2 separate regions of the Homo sapiens genome follow, and region 2 is linked to region 1. A link means that fine-mapping ties the variant in region 1 to the expression of a gene that starts in the linked region. Tissue or cell type: anterior cingulate cortex. Region 1 holds a variant in brackets; the other region holds the start of a gene. All regions are shown on one strand. Distances are between the middles of the regions.

The links. PIP is the estimated chance that this variant, and not a neighbour inherited with it, causes the effect. A credible set is the group of variants that fine-mapping cannot tell apart.
Region 2: TMEM235 starts here. The variant in region 1 is the best candidate, but not a certain one, in a credible set for the expression of TMEM235 in anterior cingulate cortex (GTEx, PIP 0.55).

What each region holds. Positions count from the first base shown.
Region 1 is chr17:77,240,754-77,243,593 of GRCh38, reverse strand. No RefSeq gene overlaps it. Among named protein-coding and RNA genes, the nearest start is that of LACAT1, 12 kb to the left of the region's middle. The variant C/T (reference allele first, on the strand shown) is at 1,301.
Region 2 is chr17:78,230,358-78,232,995 of GRCh38, reverse strand. TMEM235 (transmembrane protein 235) reads right to left here and starts at 1,365. Exons shown (of 5, transcript NM_001395503.1): 1 at 783-1,365. The coding sequence starts at 972.

The DNA.
Region 1 (2,840 bases):
ATGAGACTCCGTCTCAAAAAAAAATTAAAAGAAAAAAAAAACAAAGGAGGCAGCAGGTTAAAGGTGACTAAGAGATGAAACCACCAAATGCAACGCATGCACCTTATCAGGATCCTGGGTTTTGTTTGTTTATTTTTATTTTTTAAGACAGAGTCTTGCTCTGTCGCCCAGGCTGGAGTGCAGTGGCATGATCTCAGCTCACTTCAACCTCCTCTTCCCAGGTTCAAGTGATTCTCCTGTCTCAGCCTCCCAAGTAGCTGGGATTACAGGCATGCTCCACCAGGCCCGGCTAATTTTTTTTTGTGCTTTTAGTAGAGGTGGGATTTCACTACATTGGTGAGACTGGTCTCGAACTCCTGACCTCAGATAATCCGCCCACTTCAGCCTCCCAAAGTGCCGGGATTACAGGCATAAGCCACCGCGCCCAGCCTGGGATCCTGTTTTGAACAAACCCAGCTGGAAAAGCCATTTGGGAGACAACCAAACAAACATGGACTGGGCAGGCCATGATATTAGAAAATCAGGGTTAATTTTGTTAGCTGTGATCATGGTATTGTGGTTCAGTAAAAGAAAATGTCATTTTTAAAAGAAAATGTCTAAAAAAGATTTAGGGGGAAATGTCACAGAGACAGTAACTGACTTTAGATTAGTTTAGAAAAGAAAACCAGATGAAGCAAATATGGCAAAATGTTAGCGATTGTTAAATATAGAGGCTGGATCCGGAGGCGTTCATAAGGCTGCTGTCTGCACTCTCCGGAGGTTGAGATTTTCCATAATAAAGAGTTGTTTTCAACGTTTAATAAAGTGTGCACACAGGGGAGGACGCAGGCGTGAAAGGACAATGTTTAGAACACATTTACAGTCACACAACAATAAGGAGCGATTTATGGGTCTTCCGGAAGAAGTGACTGGGTTTGAAATTCCACGTGGGTGCCTGGGGGAGTGTGCACTTGTCAGAGGACAAAAGCCCTCGACGCTCTTGCGTTCACTCAGTAGCCATGGTTCACGCGCCCCACGGCAAGTGCTGCGAGGGGGAGAGACACAGGGAAATGGCCCTGAAATGGCACAGGGAGGTGCCCAGGCTCCGAGCAGCCCGGAGGACTCTGGAACCGTGGGGAAGCTGCCGGTATGGAGCCCAGTGAGCTCCTGGAACAGCACTACCGCTCCCCAAGACCTCCACCCACTTCATCGCTTATGGCACCTGCTGCGGGGTTAGGTGCCTGTCCACCTGCCAGGCAACCTAGTTCAAGCTGTTCCTCCAATCACATGACCCTGCAGACCAGCCCTGTGCCCTACCAGG[C/T]GGCGCCAGCCACCCCAGCTCACTTCTGGTGCCCTCAGGAGGATTTTGTCCAGTTGTTTGAGGCTGGCAGAGGTTTGTTGGGACACAGGGGGGTGTACAACAGGCCCCCCTGAGCCATTTCTGTTGAAGAGGTGTTTACTTGCCCTCCCAATTAGTTCCCAAGAGACTGGAAGTGTTGGAGTCTTGTTAGGAAAAGTGTGGATAAACTGTAAACGCCTGAGAAAGGTCTTTGGGCTGAAGGCTTTCTGGTGATGGTGGCCAAAGGGTCCTCCCAGGCTGGCACCCCACAGCGTGCAGAGCAGTCTAGTCCACAAAAGGAGCCACACTCGCTCATGTGTCCCCACATCAACCATCCCCAAAACCGGACTCAAGGGCAGAAGTGTCGTGGCAGCGTCTCTAAGCAGCGCGGGCTAATGCAGAGGCCGCTGCATTTACCTGGGGTGCCGCGCACAGCCCAGACGTGCTGGGGAGTGAGCGATTCTGGGGTTGGCCCTTTAGAAGTGCTGGAGGTGTCATGTGAAATCCTAACTCGGGGGCAGCCTCCCCAGGAAGCAGGCCGGGTCTAGGGGGCTAGACTCTTTGATTTTTAACTATCCAATGCAATTCTGCAATAGATATTGGAGAGTGAATTTTAAACTGCTGTGTTCATTAGCTTGCCTCTCAATTATCAGCAGAGCTTTTGGCAGGACGGAAGTTGATTTATGTTTGTTTGCATGGAGGGGCCCCTAAAATCCCACCCCGCTTCAGCCTTGGACAGTCCTGTGCCTTTTCTAACAGATGGAGTGGAACAAGCTGAGTCACCCCACGCCGGGCCCGCTTGGGAACGCCGGGGTGGGGGTACTGCTCGGCTGACCCTCGGGTTTGGGTTTGCTGAGCAGGGTGGACAGGCCAACAAAGGGGGTCTACCAAGGTGCTGGGTCAGGGAGAAGCAACGTCCAGGGGGGCTCGCTGGAGGGGAACCTGGTGCCTCTAATGGGCTCCCTCCCCCCGCCGCACCCCCTGCAGTCACCATCTTCCCACAACATGTTCAAAATAAATTCTTACTAATCCATAATGGAACTGGTTCTCTTTGGGGCCACATCAGAACTGAGAACAACCTCAAGGCGGATGCGGCTGAGAGGGACTGCCTCCTGCGGGCGCCGCCACACACACTGGGAGTCTGCCACGTCCAAGGGACTGGATATGCTTCTTCCTTCCACACCTGCGCCCCCCACCCCCAGATGGCTTCATGCCCTCAGCAGCGGCTGGAGAAGAACCCGGAGGCTCAGATAGTAAAAACTCCTAGAGGCGCAGATGACGCTCCTTAGGAAAATGCAAAACTGAGGCTCATGCTTTCGTCTAAGCTGAAGTCCCTCTTGCTTGAGCACTTAAGCCCATAAGGCCTGATATTTCCCCAGGGGGAAGCACGGATTCTTATCATGCGCACAGTTGAGGCTCCATGTTCTACTCCCTTCCTCATGGAAGAGATGATCTGACTTTTAAAATGACAGTATGCAGGCGTGGTGCAGAGGTTCACACTGGTAATCCCAGCACTTTGGGA
Region 2 (2,638 bases), 990 kb before region 1:
CACACACTCTCACATGCACACACATGCACACTGACATGCTCACACACTCATATTCACATGCACACACAACTACATACACTCACACTCACATATTCATATTTACATACACAGCCAGGTGCTCACACATGTTCATGTTCAGCACATGCACACATATTCAGATGCACACACATGCTCACTCACACACACACCCCTGCCCTGCCAGCCCTCGCGCTGTGAAGGGGAAGCTCCCCAGGCTGGCCCCAGCTCCGGAGGAGGGAGCTGGGGGGAACGGAGGGGGCCCTGTGGACCCTCCAGCCTGCTGGGATCCCCTTCTCTCTCCCCGGACTCTGAAGCCTCTGTACACATTTGGAACCCCTGCCCCCGCGGCATCAGGAGGTGTGGGGTGAACAGCTCTGACAGTGCCTGACAGGGACGGGGACAAGGGGCTGCCAGGCCCAAACCCCGGGGAGCGTGATCAAGAAACAACCCCTGGTGACTTGGATGAGGCCCCCCAACTACACACCTCTAGGCTTCCCTCCCCCACTGTCGCCCCACAGCCCCCTCCTCCGGCTGTGAGGGGCCCCGAACTGGGCTCCCTCCCTCCTGTAGCCCTTGGGCTGTCAGTTTTGGGGGAAGACGGAGGGTGATGGGGAGGGAGCGGAGAGACACCCTGGGGCAGAGCGGGATGCAAGAGAGGGGTCCTGGAAGGGGGTCTGGCGGGGCAACACGAGCAGGGCGGGGTTAAGGGGGTGTCGGAGGGACGAGGTCGCGGAGGGAGGAGGGCCGGCGCGGTGGCCGGTTACCTTCGCAGATGCGCCAGAGCCCCGAGTGCGAGGAGAGCAGCTCTGCGCGCCCGGGCCAGGCGCTGCCATTGCCGGCGTCCGCCACCTCCAGGATGTACCAGTAGTCGCTGGCGACCGCGGCGGCCAGGAGCGCGAAGCTGAGCAGTGCACCCAGGGCGGCGGCCAGGAGCAGCGCGCCCAGCCGGGCCATGGGGGCGGCCGGCGGGAGGGGACGGGTCGGGGGTAGCAGGGCCCCGGGGGCGGCGGGGGGCGCGCGGAGCCGGGAGCCGGGGGACGGGGGGCGGGCGGGCGCGGCGGCGCCCGGCTCTTCTGAGCACGTCCCCGCTCCTGCCCGCGCACTGGCCTCGCGGGCCCCCTGGGGTCGCAGGGAGATCGACCCCACCTCTCTGCGGTCGCTGAGCTCGCCCCTGGGGGAAAGGAGAGGAAGTCGAGAGCCGCGCGGCGAACCTGGGGCTTGGGCTCCAATCCCAGCGTCCCCACGGGCTGGCCCCGGGTCCCTGGGCACGTTCCTTAATTTCCCTGAACCCCCGGCTCCTCAGCAGCCAAACAAGATGCACCTGCCTGGCCGGGCTGTGCAGGGCTTGAGAGGAGGAGGGAGGATCGGCCAGAGACCGACCCCAGGAGGATGGCCGGCCAGGCAGCAGGACCACCCACCCGTGCTCCTGGAAGCATAGGAGCCTGGCACGGGCTGGCCCTGGGGTCCTGGTCTGTATCAGTCCTGAGGACCAACCAGACGGCATCCGGTGAAGTGCAGTGGCTGGGCCCCACAGCCGGGCGGGGGGCTGCGGAAGGAAAAAACCTTGTTTTGGATTCACTCATAATTACAAATGCCCCCTCCAGCAAGGCCGGCCTCTGCCTGTCCAGTCACTCACGGAGAAAACAGGCAGAAAGAACCTTCTAGGACAGGCGTGGGGTGCCAGTGGGGGTGGGAGGCAGAGGAGCCGGCGAGAGGCCCCCACCCATCCACCCAGGACTAGCCCCATGAGCAACGCCCGCGTGGGCAGCCACACAGGCGGAAGGGACAGGCTGGGCAGCCATCGCCTAAGGTCTGGGGTTAAATCTCAAACGAAGGGGAGGCTTCCTCTGGGTTGCCACACAGGGCTGGGCAGAGCCTGCAGAGAGGGGATCAGAGGTCTGAGGACATCCTCCCGGATGGTGGCCCTTGGAGGTGAAGCCAAGGCTCTCTTCTTGGGGCGTTTTGGCCATGCTTTCCTCTGCTAGGCTCTTGTTGGTTTGAGGAATATAGTCAGGAAGGAAAAACCAGCCTAGCAGTTATTGAAACAATATTTCAAACAGAGTTCAGACAGAGTGACAGAATGGCTCAGGTATTTTGTAGCCGTCCTCACACCTGCAGCACCAGACTGTGTTGCCGCACGTGGGCAGCTCTGGGGTTTTCCAGCCCCCTTGGAGCTGGGGCTTCCCTGACCACAGCCCCTCTCTGGGAGCCATGTGGCATCCAGCAGCCCTGTTCTCTAGGGGTGGGGATAGCACATTAGATCTGGAAGGTGAAAGAACTCAACAGGTGCTCAGAGAGTAGCAGCCGTTATAAAGGCAGAGGCGATAGGGATAGGGGGTGGGGCCTCGTTCCCCCCCTAAACACACTGCAGCTGGGGAAAGAACGGTGCGTGATGAAAACTCGTGGTACTCTGACACTGACCCCACAATAAAGCAATATAACAAGAATCAATATTGCTTCGGTTGGATCAACACCTTTGTGCATGTGAAAGGTACGAACTGACTCTGCAGGGAGAACAGAGGAGCCCCATTTGGGCTGCGTGCTCCATGTGTGTCCTCCCGGTGACTTCCCCTTCTCTCTCTCACTCTATTTATTTTTTTAGAGACAAGGTCTCCCTATG